Regions from separate parts of the Homo sapiens genome. Here region 2 is linked to region 1. Evidence: fine-mapped expression QTL. Tissue or cell type: whole blood. Region 1 holds a variant in brackets; the other region holds the start of a gene. All regions are shown on one strand. Distances are from middle to middle.

Region 1 (8,000 bases):
CTGGAATGTGGAAAGTAGACCTGGGAAGGTCATTTGTACCTTGCTGACAAATTTATATTTCTGGATTTCTTTCTACATTATTCCAGCAATTCACCTTACACCCTTACCAAAGATCACTATTGAAAAAATCATTTGCTTTAGTTTTCCAACGTTCTCCCTTCCCCCAACAAACGTTATTTAAAGAAAAATTCCATGTATTTCTAGTTGTTTTCTATTATACGTGGCACAGATGTTATTACTTTCAGAAGAACCCTACAGGCTATCTGAGAACCAATCCCCTGGCTTGGGGGTGACATCAGAAAACTGATTTGTCTTCTCTGCTGGTGGGGGAAAGCATAATCCTATTATCTGGAATAATATGGAAAGAATCATAGAATCTTAACCATCAGGTAAGGTATAATTCACCTTTTAATTGAGCTAATGACTCGATTGTGTACTTGAAGAAAAATTACATGGTATAAAGACTTCTTTGTTGTTTTTTAGGGCATTGGCCCTAAACTGTGATGCTCCATTGGATGATAAAATTGGAGCAGAGTCTCGGAATTGGAGAGCTGGTAAGCCAGTCAGAGTGATACGCAGTTTTAAAGGGAGGAAGATCAGCAAATATGCTCCTGAAGAAGGCAACAGATATGATGGCATTTATAAGGTGCTCTATCTGGCATGACATCTTGTTTGTCATTCTTCCTGGGCTTTCAAGGCAGGGTTGTTGCAAGGAACTACTGTGGGTGGGCTCGAGGAAACAGTAGCCATCTTATATTGCTACTTTTTCTGGAAATTGAACAGATGCATAAAGCAAACTCTTAACTTCAGCACTTTACTTTTAAGGCTTATTTCGAGTTCCTAGGGGCAGAGTTGGGTTAAGGTTTTTTTTTTTAAAATGTAAGTGTATGTTCTCTATAATAAAGCCATTTAAGTAACTGGCTGTTGTATAACTTGATTTTTATATATCTTTTTGAATGATTTTAGTTGTAATAGATTTTCAAAGCAGCACATCATAGTAATAGATTTTCATTCTTTGTTTAAAAAGAGGCATTTGCTGCCATCTTTACGATACAAAATTCTGTTAATTAGCATAATCTTGTTACTCTATTAAATTTATAGCAGTCTGTCCTCATGGGAAGTACTGTAATAGGAATTAAGGTCAAAACTGTTTTAGTGAATATTCTTGACTTACTGTCCTTACAGCAAAGCAGAATATTCAGAAGTTGCATTTAGTTCTGGCAAAGATTATTTTGATACCACTAATGTGATGAATAAGTCTAAATTTTAAATCTCAAACTGGCACTGAAATATTGTGATTTAGGTGGTGAAATACTGGCCAGAGATTTCATCAAGCCATGGATTCTTGGTTTGGCGCTATCTTTTAAGAAGAGATGATGTTGAACCTGCTCCTTGGACCTCTGAAGGAATAGAACGGTCAAGGAGATTATGTCTACGTTTACAGGTTAGATTACATTTGTCTAGGCTGCCTGTGTGTTCATAAAAATATACACCTCTTCTATCTACATGCCTTAACACTGGATATAACCCACAGCAATTGACTGGTGGACTATAAGGGGTGAGGAATAAGATCATGCAAATAGACAGAGGAAAAGAAGAGAAAAGGTAGTATCCTAGATGTCAGACTGCCCTGGGACCAAGGGTTGTGCTTGGGAAAAGTTGGACCTGTTAATTAAAAGTAAAATATTTCCAAATCAATTTGGAAATGACTTGAAGTGTGAGGGAAAGGGATTCATAAAATTTAGGTATAGGAGGCCCTGGAAAAGGACATTTATCCTAGAGGGCACAGGGGGTGTCTCTCTGGTAGGGGAAGGGTGGGGAGGTGGCTTTATAAGAGTGGTCTGCCTTCTCCCTTTCTCACTTTTCCTCACCCCTTTTCTCTCTTCCCCCGCAAAGCTGCTTCCCTGCCCTGCCACCACCTTTAGTGCTTTGTCTTTTTTCCCCTTTGCCCATGCTCAGCTGTTAACCCATAAAGACTTCGTTGATTTTGTGTGCATAGTGGATGGTATGGCTGCATTAATCCCTTCACTGCCTGTATACCCTAGAATTTGTCCCTGACACTGACTTCAGAGCATGGTTTGAGTTCATCTCCCATCATTCCCCATTGTTGTGCTTCCCGTAAAAACTGCCAGCTTTATCATTTCCCCTGGCTCTGCCCACACTGCATGTGTAGGGGCTGAACTATGGGCAAGTGTCTGACCACCCAGGCAGGTGAGTGTGTGTCTTCTAATGCAAGTCTGTTTCTGTTTTTGTTGTCTTTTTAAACTCATAGAATTGATTGTTGAAAATAAGGCCATCAACTGCTAAAACAACTACTAAAATAATTCTTTTTAATATAAAAATAACTTTGTCAAATTCACTTTCAGAAGATTTTTCAGATGTCCCTGTTGAGAGCATTGTTCTAGATAGGTTATATTTGAAACTGTGAGCAGAAGCATGTGAGCCCATCTGCTATGATGAGTAATAGTCATTGAGGCCTGAAACATACAGTGCTTTAAGCATGACTGTTATTACAAAGCATGCTTCTCCCACCCCACCCACCCCCTCAAAGAAGGTAGCCATTGAAACATAAGGATGATAGATAGAATGTATTACTTCAAATCTAACTCTTAGCTGGTGGAGGATTTAGTAATTTAGTTGCTTTAGGTCTTGTAAAAGCTCCTGCCGCTAACTTTAGGAGATGAGAAGTTTGACCCTTAATGTTCTTGATATTTTTTTAGATCAACTCCACAATTTACTGTGATCCAATCCATCTGCTTTCTATCTGTTGTGCTCTATGATTGGTTCTCATTTACCTTCATTTCTGTATTCTACTTTCCTTAAACTTTAAGGAAATCTAATCACAACTCCTGAAGACTTACCTTTCTTAGATCTGAAACTTAAGATCAGTGTATTATAAAATGGAATCTCTTAGCAGTCACAGCTACATAAATTGGGATTTTAATAGTTGTCTGTGCTTTGAATTCTTTTCCTTTAAATGTCTGTTTCTTTTATGTAAAGTTTTTCAGTTTGGGGAACGTGTAGTCTTCCCCTCCCTTTTAATTTCTCACCAGGATCTAAACCCCCCTTCTCTGTGAAGCTTAAATCTGCATTGTACTCTCCCTCCTCCCCCCCCATCAGTATCCAGCAGGTTACCCTTCAGATAAAGAAGGGAAGAAGCCTAAAGGACAGTCAAAGAAGCAGCCCAGTGGAACCACAAAAAGGCCAATTTCAGATGGTAGGTAATGATTGCAAAATATAAATAATAATAACATACTTTTGTTGTTGTTGTTGTTGA[G/T]ACGGGGTCTCACTCTTGTCACCCAGGCTGGAGTGCAGTGGAAAGATCTTGGCTCACTGTAGCCTTGACCTCCTGGGCTCAAGCGATCCACCTACCTCAACCTCTGAAGTAGCCCACGGCTGTACACCACCACACCTGGCTAATTTTTGTATCTTTTGTAAAGATGGGGTTTCTCCATGTTGCCCAAGCTGGTCTTGAACTCCTGGGCTGAAGGGATCCTCCTGCCTCAGCCTCCTAAAGTGCTGGGATTACAGGCAGAAGCCACTGCATCCAGCCAACATACTTTTTAATAAAGAGAAATATTAAGAAAATAAATTGAGACTTAAATGAAAGCAAAGGATTTGGCTGGGGGGGCATGGTAGAAGATGGATCTTTTGTTTAATAGTGTCAGAGCCAAATAGCAGGAAATAACAGTATCCTAAATTTTAGGGGAAATTAGATGCTGTTTTATGTTGGTTATCTTTCTGCTAAACATTACTTGTGCCAGTTAACTCTTTTGTTTCATAGTTCTGCTTAGAACCACTTGTAAGTCTGCTGATACATTTTTAAAATAAATCTAGATGACTGTCCAAGTGCCTCCAAAGTGTACAAAGCATCAGATTCAGCAGAAGCAATTGAGGCTTTTCAACTAACTCCTCAACAGCAACATCTCATCAGAGAAGATTGTCAAAACCAGAAGCTGTGGGATGAAGTGCTTTCACATCTTGTGGAAGGACCAGTATGTGAAGATTTTTTTAAATAATAACATTCTGATATTAACAAATGATAAATAATTGTCTCATGAAGTCTGTTTTTCACACATCAGTCAAAACTTCATCCTTCTACCCGGTTTTCTAATCCAGTGCCACTACCTTTCAGAAATAATCTGAGGCAACACATATACATGCGCCTAAATTTACTTTAAACCTCTTAGATGCTGGATTTTGACTTCTCTATGCCCAAAGTTACTTTACTTTGAGGTACTGTTCCTCAGAAGAATTTTCAGTTTGTGAAACATCGTCATTTTAATCTAAAAATCACCACGAAAGTTTTTGTTACAGTTCAAAGTTACCTAACCGCATAAGTCTTAAGCAGTTCAGCACAATTTTCAAAACCTACATGTTAAACTAAGTGGTAAAATTAACCAGATTATCTATTAAGTATTTTATGTTTCTAAATTTTCATTTTTTCTTAATCTTTAAATTAATCACATAATTTTAAAGTAAAAAGGAATCACAGTTAATTAATGTGTGGGCTTTGTGTTAAGCTGTGTTTTGCAAACAAGCCCTTCTTATCAAATCCCTAAAGTTGGAGTCTTCAAATATGAACTATCTCTTCATTCTTTCCTCACTTATTGTGTCTTTAATTTTACTTATAAATTTGAATCTTCTATTAAATATTGACCCCTTGTCATTTATAATACAATTACTTTTCTGTTTTCTTTCTCTCCAAAGTGTTGATGTGCCCCCATGTCTGTATGTCTTTTCTATCTAGGCTGAAAGCAGCAACACAAAAACTCTACAGAGTTTCCTTTGTGAGAAATAGTCATTATTATTAAGGAAGAATTTTTTAAATATGATTTTTAAACTTTTAGAAATGCTGAAATTTATCAAATATTTGGATTTATATTGGAATCGTTACTTCCTTTGTCTATAAATGTGATACATTGAGTTATCTTTGGCAAAATGAAGCTTACATGTTTAGAGGACAGGGGAAAGTGATTACACTTTGAGAAGTGTTTACTTGTATTTTAGCCAAGACACCCAGGCGTAAGCAGAGTCTGACTTTGTTAGGTCACACTCATTTTCACTTATAGGAAATTAAGATACAGGAAGCAGTTGTTAATCAGCCTAATTATTCTCTGATTGGGAAAGATAGGGCTTGTTAGTGATAACTGAGGTGAGTTTCCACTGTAGGTGGGAGAGAAGCAATTACAGATGGAGGAAAAAGCCACCTGAGTGGTGTGAAAGTTGTCTTCCCTATGGGTAGTGTCCCACTGGGACAGATTCTGACCTTCCTAGGTCATATTATTGTGACCTTGCTGCTAGTGATTACTTTGGATGTTATGTACTATTGCCCTGGACAAGTTTCATGCCCATTCTCTTCAGATAAGCCAGGAACACATTTATTAAGCCAGAAAAAAACAGGTGTTAGCCAACAGTGACTTTAAATAAATACATATGTGTATATATATTTATGTCCAAACTCCTTCCAAAGGCCCTGTGATCAGCAGCCCTACCTACATCTGTAGTCTCCTCTTAAACTGGTACTCTTGTGCCCAGATTGCTTGACTGCAGTGGTCACTGTTTTATTTAAACATGCTCGACGTCTTGATACCCCTGGGCCTTTACATACATACTGTTACTCTGACTGGAATTCTCTTTTCATGTGTCTCACTCTTTCATATCCTTTAAGTCTGTATAAATAGATTCCTCAGAGAGATCTTCCCAAACTACCCTTTCTAAAATGGCAACTCTTTAAAATTTAGTTTAAAAAGTCCAAACAGATGGGGTTACTATGTTGCCCAGACTGATCTCAAACACCTGGGCTCAGGCAATCCTCCCGCTTCAGCCTCCTAAGTAGCTGGGTTTATAGGCATGAGTCAGTTTGCTCTGTTTCATCAGTTATTACTATCTGAAACAGTTTTTGTTTGTTTACTCTGCTGTAGGAACGTAAGTTCCAGGAGAGCACAGACTGCCTTTTTATTACCACTGTAGATGAGTGCCTAGCACATTGTAGCTACCTGTAACTCAAAATACCTGTATTAGATATACCCGTATTATAGGAACTGTGGAAGTACCAGGTTAAATATTGGTCATTAACAAAGGTGTTTGTTAGGGAGAGAGTACCTGTTATAAAGTTTCCAGCATCTCCACATAATTGCCATATTTTAAAAATGTGTTTATAATACTTTGTCTGTAATATATTTGACTTTAATGATCCATGTTCATAAATCAGTTAATATGAGACATCTTTTGAAATGTGACATTCAATTTTTAAATTTGAAACTTGTAAGGTTTTTTTGTTTGTTTGTTTGTTTTTGAGACGGAGTTGTGGTCTGTCTCCCAGGCTGAAGTACAGTAGCATGATCTCAGCTCACTGCAACCTCCACCTCCTGGGTTCAAGTGATTCTCCTGCCTCAGCCTCCCAAGTAGCTGGGATTGCAGGCACCCGCCACCACGCCCGGCTAATTTCTTGTATTTTTTTCTAGAGACGGTTTTGGCCATGTTGGCCAGGTTGGTCTAGCACTCCTGACCTCAAATGATCCACCCGCCTCAGCCTCCCAGAGTACTGGGATTACATGTGTGAACCACCATGCTTGGCCTTAACTTTTTCTATTAATATAAAAAATAAATATGAAATATACTCCCTTACTACCTAAAATAACTGAAGGATTATCTTTATGACTAGGAAAAAAACTAGTTTTCCTTCTAGCTTAAAAAAAAAAACCAGCCAAGATGAAATGGAGCCAGTAATGGCTTTTGAAGAATACAGGGTATCCATTTGATCATGTTTACATTAGGTGGCTCTACTTTTTATAATTTCCTCCTACTGTAAATAAACATTAGCATCAGGAAGGTATGGGATTTTAGGATTGAGGTAAAATATGACAGAATAATCCTAGGAAAATAAATGTTTTGTTTATGGTATTAGATACTACAGAGTATTGTTTCCTAGTGTTTTTTTTTAAGCTCCTAAAGACAAATATTCAAGTTTTATAACAGCAGAAGATTGAATAGATAATACATGTTCATACTTTGGAATACTGTGCAAAACAGCTTTTTGAAAAAAGGCAGTCAGTATGTAATGACCTTGAGACACGTTGCCCATGATTTTTTTATTTTTTAAGTGAAAAATAGTTTGTCCCTGGAATGTGACATTTAGGGGGACATTGACTTTTTAACATCATATATTGACTTTGCAACTTTTCCTACCCAATACTCTGATTTAAAACTAATGTGTATGGAATGGGATTTCTTTATATAACTTTGCTCTTCTCAGGTAGTTAAAAATCAAGAGTACTTGATTTTTTTAAATAGAAGACTTTTTTTTTTTTTTTTTTTTTTTTTTTTAAGACCGAGTCTCGCTCTGTCACCCAGGCTGGAGTGCAGTGGCGTGATCTCAGCTCACTGCAAGCTCCGCCTTCTTGGTTCACTCCATTCTCCTGCCTCAGCCTCCCCAGCAGCTGGGACTACAGGCACACGCCGCCACGCCCAGATAATTTTTTGTATTTTTAGTAGCGATGGGGTTTCACTGTGTTAGCCAGGATGGTGTCGATCTCCTGACCTTGTGATCCGCCTGCCTCGGCCTCCCAAAGTGCTGGGATTACAGGCGTGAGCCACCGCGCCCGGCCTCTAAATAGAAGACATTAAATGTGACTGAAACATTTTTATTGCTAAATAATAGATGGATATATTTTGGGATACATGTGAAATTTTGATATGTTCATATAACATATAATAAATCAGGGTAATTGGAATGTTCATCACTATAAACATCTTTTATGCTGGGAACATTTGAATTATTCTCTACTAGCTGTTTTGAAATACACAGTAGATGAATTTTATTAGCATATTATGAACTGCTAACTTTTCTTTCCTTATCCTTGGATACTGTTCTAGAATTTTCTGAAAAAATTGGAACAATCTTTTATGTGCGTTTGCTGTCAGGAGCTAGTTTACCAGCCTGTGACAACTGAGTGCTTCCACAATGTCTGTAAAGTAAGTAGAATTCCTTCCTCACT
Region 2 (8,177 bases), 87 kb before region 1:
AATATAGATTGTTTGGGATCTATACACAAATCCTATACAGTCTCAGTAGATACCTAATTTTGAGACAGTCATCTTATCCCCTCCCCACCCCTGCAGTTCTCCATTAAAGCCCCATCACATTAAGAAAGATAAATCTCATAAGAGTGTGTACAGGAGGTCTTAAAAAGTCCCTCTTTAAGAACTTTCCTATTTCTCTTCAATACGTCAAACTTCTATTTCCAGTGGTCAGTTAGACATCTCCAGCTAGACAGATGCTATATTTTGGATGCATTTCAAATGCAACACAGCTCATTTGGAACTCATTGTATTTTCCCGACTTGCCTCCTCTACAAGTTCAGAGCATCACCATCTGCTCGAGCCATCAATTTAAATCTCCTAAGCTAGAAACTTGGGAACTGTTCTCAACATTCCATTTTCCTCATCCTTTATATCCACAATCCTACAAGTTTTATAGGCTCAATTTTCTAGAATACTCTGGAATACATCCTCTCCTCTCCTACTTACCGCCACTAATTTCACCAAAACTGACACAATTGCCTCCTCTGTAAACTTTCTGACAATAAGTTCTCCCCTCATGTCCCTCTTCCTTACTTTTTCCCTAAGGCATCTGTCCAGATTCCTTTTGCTATTATTTCAAATGCATATTTAATTACATCCATCTACTCCTTAAAAATCTTAGTTTTTCCCTGGGGCCCACAAAAATCATCTGCTTTGAATGTTAATTTTCACACACTGCCCTTTTCTATTTAGTCAACCATTCTCTGATTTGCAGTCTCTTCTGACCTGTAAAAAATGCACACTTTTTTGTCTTTGTTTAAGCACTCTTTCCTCTTTGGGCATACTCTGTTTATCTAAATCTTCTCCATAACAGCAGTACTAAAATAATTTATTGTGTACTACTAAGGGATAGTATGCAAACCACTTTACAATCATTAGGTTATTTCAAGCACCATTTTACATTGAGGAAATTGAGGATGTTATTTGTACAAGATCACATTTTTAAGCAAGCAGTAAAACTGGGATTATAATTCCGGTCTATCTCAATCCATGAACTGAACATTTAAATGCTGCCTCCTACTACAATGTATCACATAACTCGTGTCAAGTTGTACAGTTATTTTTAAGCTTCCAGATCATTCTAGTTCCCCTTTTCTTAATCATTCTAGTTCTCCTCTCATCTGTAATCATGGTTTGCGCCAACATCAGTGTTTAGTACTAAGTTATTCTTTAATATTTTATTTTTGTTAAATCTTATCTCAACTAGATTGTAATTTGTTTTGTGAGAGGTAACTAAAAAAAAAATCCTAACGTAACTCCACAAAGCCATAGTATAACGTTATAATAGTAAATAGCATAACCTTATAATAAATAGTTTCGCCTTATTGAGGTAGGTAGTAAGTGTGCTTTAGGTAGATTTGGTTGGTGCAAATGTAATTGTGGTTTTTGCCACCGAAAGAAATGGCAAAACCCCAATGACTTTTGCACCAACCTAAATATCATCTCATTTACATATGTAATAAATACTCAATATTTGCTTTAATTAAAATAGGGGTAGACAAGTGAATTATATTTAGAGGTTCTAGGTGACTGAAATTTTCACAGGGGCAGAAACCCAAAATATGTATGTGCAGTTAATTTTTTCTGTCTCTTCTGTGTTGGGCCATCTTTTTTTTCTCTTTTTTTTTGAGATGGAGTCTCACTCTATCGCCCAGGCTGTAGTGCAGTGGCGTGATCTCAGCTCACTGCAGCCTCCGCCTCCCGGGTTCAAGCAATTCTCCTGCCTCAGCCTCCCGAGTAGCTGGGACTACAGGCAACTGCCACCATGCTCAGCTAGTTTTTTAATATTTTTAGTAGAGATGGGGTTTCACCATGTTGGCCAGGCTGGTCTGGAACTCCTGACCTCAAGTGATCCGCCCACCTCGGCCTCCCAAAGCGCTGAGATTACAGGCCTGAGCCACTGCGCCCGGCCTTTCTCTTCTTTTTCATGATATACTACTGGATTTGTCTGTGCTTGTAATTATTTTAGCTGTTTATTAGTTTATTACAAAAAAATGGTACTGTACCTTTATGGGAATAATTAGCACCTATGTGAATATTTAAGTTACCGATTTTGGCAAATGTGAAGTCCAAGTTGTCTTGTTTTGTTTACGTTTATATCCTCTCTCCCTTCTTGAGAAGACATATTTTCATTTAAAATAAACCCACTTGGCCGGGCGCGGTGGCTCACGCCTGTAATCCCAGCACTTTGGAAGGCCGAGGCGGGTGGATCACGAGGTCAGGAGATCGAGACTATTAGCCGGGCGCGGTGGCGGGCGCCTGTAGTCCCAGCTACCCCAGGGAGGCTGAGGCAGGAGAATGGCGTGAACCCGGGAGGCGGAGCTTGCAGTGAGCCGAGATCGCGCCACTGCACTCCAGCCTGGGCGACAGAGAGAGATTCCGTCTCTAAATACATACATACATACATACATACATACATAATAAATAAAATAAAATAAACCCACTCACCCCCACCCCGACTCCCCAGCTGTAGCAGGGAAGGATTAAGAAGGCGGGGTGGGGGGTGGGGGAAGCCCTGTTAGGTAGTGCTGCGTTGGGCCCACTTCTGAGGGTTTAATCCTAGTAGGGTCTTTGGAGTTCTTTCTTCGGAGGCGCGTAGCTCTGCATTATTTAAAACTGTTTCCCGCAAACCCGCAATCCCTTAGGCCAAAGGCACCCCTAACGCGGAAAGTCTACGAACGGAAATGTCCGGAGTTAGAGAGCGGCCTTTCGGGCAGCTGCCCCGACTTCTCCAAGGCCGGAGGGCCGGCTGGGAGCGCTGCAAGCCAGAGAGGGCGATCCCAGCGGGACCCGCGGCCTGAGGATAGGCCTGGAGCTGCCGCCTCCGCCAGGCGACGGGAAACCCTCGGAAGTGGGTTTCCGCGCGAAAGTAGCATTGCGGCCAGGCGGGAAACGTGTTCGCGAAGCAGGAGGGCCCCCGGGGCCTTTCCCGGGCGACCCGACCCGCCAGGCCGCGTGGCGGGAGCTTTCCTGTTGAGCGCGGTGGAGCGCACACATTTCCTTCAGTTCTTTCTCGGAAGTTTAGGCCGCACCCACCCGCGCCCCCTTTCCAGGATTATACAAGTGCACGCCAGGGTTTCTTATTTTTGGTGTGTTTTTGAGACCAAAGAACCATATCCGCTAAGCCTGAGGAGGCACCCGCCCCCTCAGCTCTGAAACGAGGCCTCAAAACGGCAACCGATGTGGTAGCCGCGCAATCTTCCGAAACCCAAAGGCTAGAGGGCGTGCCCAGTGGCCAGGTGCAGGCGGTGGGGCAAGTAACGGCTTTTGGTAGCCCCGCCCCTCCGACCCGCCCTCTCCGCGCCTGCCCATTTTCGTTCCCTCGGGTCTGTAACCCTCTCCCGGGCCGCTTCCTCTTTAAGGCGGAGCCCGGCGTGGATCTCGCGAGATCCGGCTTGGCGCCGTGACCTCCATGTGGGAGCTCCAGCTCTATAAGTAAACACTCTGCGCGGCGCAGACATGGCCTCTTCCTATCTTTGAGGCGGTGTCTGCGGCAGCGCCTCAGAGTGGTTCCGGTCGTCTCTCCTCAAGTCGGCTAGTCGGGCGCGCGCGCTGAGAGTCGTCGCCGCCTGTCGGGCCCGGCGTCCGGTCGGTCCGGTGGGCGCGCTCGCCCGCCTGCCGCTGAGGGCCCGAGCCGCAGGGAAAGCGGCGCGGGCCGGGCGGGGCGCGGCGCCCAGAGCTCAGGGGGAGACAAAGGGGACCGGTTCCTCTCTAGGCGCCAAGATGTGGATACAGGTTCGCACCATTGATGGCTCCAAGACGTGCACCATTGAGGACGTGTCTCGCAAAGCCACGATTGAGGAGCTGCGCGAGCGGGTGTGGGCGCTGTTCGACGTGCGGCCCGAATGCCAGCGCCTCTTCTACCGGGGCAAGCAGGTGAGGCGCGCCCGCCGCGCCCCTAGCGAGGCTGGGGGCCGGAACAGCTGGGCTCCTCTGGACGCACCGGTCCGAGGGCTCTGTGCGCCGCGCGCGCAGGGCTCACCTGGCTCCGCTGCGGGTGGGCAGCCCCCGCGAGGCGCGGGGTGCGGGGCCCAGTCCCGCCGAATGGTGGGGAGTGGGTCCCTGCCAGCCCCAACTGGAGGTGCGCCGCGCGGGGTCAGAAGTGAGGGCGTCCGGAGCGCAAATATCTCGCCGTTTGTATTTGGTAGGACAGCGGCCGTAGGCACTGGGTGCCCAGGTCCCTCGCTTCCCGCGCTCGGCGGGGCCTGGGGCCCCCAGAGGGCGGGGAGGGCAGAGGGCTCTGGCGGCCATGCCACCGCGCGGGAGACCCGGAGAGCTGGCTAACCCGGCTGAGCGTTCGCCTGGCTTCCGCGGCTCTTCCGCGTCTTCGGCTCTCAAACAGGGGAAACTCGGGCATTGAGCTCTCAAGAATAAGAACCCTAACTCTGCTTCCTGACTGTGGTAGGATTCGCGCAAACTGAAGATTCGAAGGGTTTCCAGAACTTCTGGTCCCTCTCCCTCGCCGCCTTTCCTAGGTTTGGAATGTCTCGAGGGAGGTTAGAGACCTGGGCATGAAGAAACTGTCGGTTTAACCGGGGGCCGGGTTTACGAATGCCCTATATAAGCCAAGAGTTTTATTCCCGAAGTGAAAAGGAGTGTAAGACTGTTTGCTTTTCTTACTTCTCGCCTTCTAATACTCATGTCGTTCACGCTTTAAGCATAGCACTGCAGCATAGCCAGCGGTGCATACTTGAAGGCTGTCTGTGGGCATCTCTGGTATTTTTATGGTCTGGCCAGTCTAAGTTTTTTTCCTATTCCACAAGTCTCTTACAATCTATATCCCTAGCCACTCAGACCCATCGTATTTTTCTTTGTCTTCATGTTGTTGTTAATACACTAAAAAGTTGGCATCCTGAGTTGATAGACCACAGTTTGGCTCCAATCCTGTGGTTTTAAATAAGTGTAGCTCTTTGATTTGGTAGAAGTAGCCTACAGTTGCAAACTACTTAAAAGGAATATTTTCCTCCCCTTCACAGGCTTAGTCTTCGAAGACTGTCCAGAAATTTCATAGTAACAAATTACACTTTGGGAAGGAGAGAGCTTTTTTTTCCCCTTTCCTTCTCTCTTTAAAATAATGTTATAGCACCTTTGATTTGTGTTTGCAGCCAGTTTTGTACTGACTTCTTAGTGTTTGACTTGTAAAAACAGGTATTTAGTTGTAAGCTTTGCTTTTGAAATAATTGTACACTTGTTAAATACTACATAGATTTGCTTTGCTGTGCCTCAAGTGGCTGATACCGTTTCCTTTTGATCACAAGTGAAAAAGCATGTAATCGTTTGATGCATTTTATTTTCTAGCTGGGGACAAATAGTACATGAATTCCTAGGACACTGGTGATTTCAGCACCAGAGATAGAAATGAAGGATGTTCTTGGGCAACACTCCTAAAATCTTTATTATCAAATATGCTAAAATAATTATCACATATGGGATTGGGTTAAATTCAAGGCAACAAAGTAGACTTTCAGTAAACTAGGAAGCTCATTCCAGATTCCAGGGAAAACTGAGGATAACCGTTGTACTTCCTCTTCCAGGGTCCTAGTGGGTAATTCACTACTTGGGTTTCTTCAGCCCAGTGATAAACCAGTAGGGTAGAGGAATAGACCTTTGGTGCCAGCCATTAACTTGGAAACAGAAAAGGAAGGTCATTGGTACCAGCTGTGTGTTCACTTTCTTATGCGCTGACAAGTAGCTATGGCAATGAGTGTTATCTTTCGTGGTCTCTGGAGCTCCACAGATGAGGTAGCCAGCCTGTAGCAGGTAACTACTGGAATGGCATCACAGAGAGTCCCCGTCCTGTAAAATACCATGTCCTCATTGGAAAAAGGTACCCCTACTTCAAAATACTTTACTGCCACGTAGTGAAAAATGTCATAAATTGTAGACAATACATTTATTTTTATTTAAGTGGTACCCGCCCCCCATACTCCATTCGTATGTTAGGCTCCAGCTTTTAATCTTTGGTATGTATCAGAATCGCTTGTGGATATTTATTATAGATGTTCAGCTCACCCCAGAACTGCAAGTAGTTGAATTTAACAAGACCCCACGGGAGATTCTGATAACACCAGAGTTTAGAAAATGAATGTTGATAGATAGTCTCCCACTAGTCTCTTACTATTCAAAGTATGGTCCCTGGATTCTCAGGACCAGCAGCATTAGCTTTACCTGAAATCCTCACGCCAGACCTACTGAAGCTGACCTACTGAAGCAGAATCTGTATTTTAACAAGATCTCCAGGTGATCTGTATGTAGGTGAAGTTGGAGAAGGCAGTGTTAATTGACTCCACTTTTTTTGTTGTTGTTTTTGTTTTTTTTTTAAGCCGGAGTCTTGCCCTGTCGCCAGGCTGGAGTGGCGCGATCTCGGCTTACTACAACCTCTGCCTCCCGGGTTCAAGCGATTCCCCTGCCGCAGTCTCCCAAGTAGCTGGGACTACAGGCGTGCGCCACCACTCCCGGCAAATTTTTTGTATTTTAGTAGAGACGAGGTTTCACCATTTTGGACACGATGGTCTCTATCTAGGACAGGACCTCAGGTGATGCGCCCACCTCGGCTTCCCAAAGTGCTGGGATTACAGGCGTAAGCTACCGTGCCCAGCCTTGACTCCACATTTGAGGGTCAAAATGGAGACCTGCAATTCAGGGCTATAAGTTTTGGTTAGAGTAGGATAACATGCTGTGAACATTCTTATCTGGGAAGTTGAGTTTGAGGCACGCGGGGGATTGGGTCTTTTTAAGGAAGAGATTATGTTGGTGGATCTCTAAATCTTTTTTTTTTTTTTTTTTTTTTTTTGAGACGGAGTCTCGTTCTGTCGCCCAGGCGGGAGTGCTGTGGCGCGATCTCCGCTCACTGCAAGCTCCGCCTTCCGGGTTCACGCCATTCTGCCTCAGCCTCCCGAGTAGCTGGGACTACAGGCGCCCGCCACTGCGCCCGGCTGATTTTTTGTATTTTTAGTAGAGACGGGGTTTCACCGTGGTCTCGATCTCCTGACCTCGTGATCCGCCCGCCTCGGCCTCCCAAAGTGCTGGGATTACAGGCGTGAGCCACCGCGCCCGGCCTAAATCTTTTGAGAATCCAGAGCTTTTCCTATTTTAAAGGATTCTCTCTCGTCATTCTTTCACTCCTTACCACTATAGAGGTGGTCTTAAAATAGATAACAATGTGGGGCATGAACTATAGTTGAAGAAAAAAGTTGCCTCTCCCACTTGGTTTTCACACAGAATATAAAAGTACTTGCCTATTTAAAGGAATATCTATGTATATATTATATATGATGTATATAACATATATAATACACACATATATAATATGTGATGGATACGTGAAAGTTGTTTTGCCCTTCACTGGCATCCCTAGTCAGTAGTTGCTTGGGAATGACTTCCCACTGCCCTCTCAGCCACTTCCACTTGGCATTTGCTTTCTAGTATTCCCTTGCATCATTGTTGCAGTTCCTCTTGTTACCTGGAGTTTCTTCTTTCAACTCAGTAAAATTTCAAGAGTGGTCTGACAAAAAATCCTAACCATTTTTGCTTCTTAAGTATTGTAAATACTGCATCTCCATCTTCGAGTATGGCAGTTCTCAAACATTTGCTTTTGAGACATTGATGGACCTAAGTTACATGCTTCTGACTCACAGATGTTTGTGATTTCTAAATGACCGCTTCCTTTTTTCCCTACTTAGAGCTTAATTTGAGTGTCAGAGATAACTTTCAATCTTCACTTTCATTAAATGTGGAAGAACTTCGGTACTTTTCAAGTAAATCATCTCAACACTTCACAGCTCTTCATAATATGTGAAGCTTTGTGGAATAAAGTTGTGTGGAACTTGTTATTGCGGTAGATAAATGGTCACTATTGTAGGAAGACTGGAGGAGTACCTATGAATTAGCGAAGGAGTGGATAATCTGGGTTTAAAAAGCCTGTCATAGCAAGCATGAGGAAAGGTGGTTATATGTTACTGTGGATGTAACTTATAGGGTCTCATGCCGTGATATGCTTAGACATGGTGCTCTTACGACATTTTTTCCTGTCAAATCAAATTTTAAAAAGCACCAGTTGAAACAGTTTGTATTTACTCCTGACCGTCATTTAGTAGAAACTAACCAGGAGCTGACTGTAG

The links. PIP is the estimated chance that this variant, and not a neighbour inherited with it, causes the effect.
Region 2: UHRF2 starts here. The variant in region 1 is fine-mapped to the expression of UHRF2 in whole blood (TOPMed, PIP 0.96).

Annotation. Positions count from the first base shown.
Region 1 is chr9:6,496,715-6,504,714 of GRCh38, forward strand. UHRF2 (ubiquitin like with PHD and ring finger domains 2) reads left to right here. Exons shown (of 16, transcript NM_152896.3): 11 at 484-646; 12 at 1,304-1,444; 13 at 3,121-3,217; 14 at 3,838-3,995; 15 at 7,879-7,977. Among named protein-coding and RNA genes, the nearest start is that of UHRF2, 88 kb to the left of the region's middle. The variant G/T (reference allele first, on the strand shown) is at 3,278.
Region 2 is chr9:6,409,711-6,417,887 of GRCh38, forward strand. UHRF2 (ubiquitin like with PHD and ring finger domains 2) reads left to right here and starts at 3,489. Exons shown (of 16, transcript NM_152896.3): 1 at 3,489-3,933. The coding sequence starts at 3,781. RefSeq lists silencers at 3,207-3,346, 3,627-3,806, 3,877-4,306.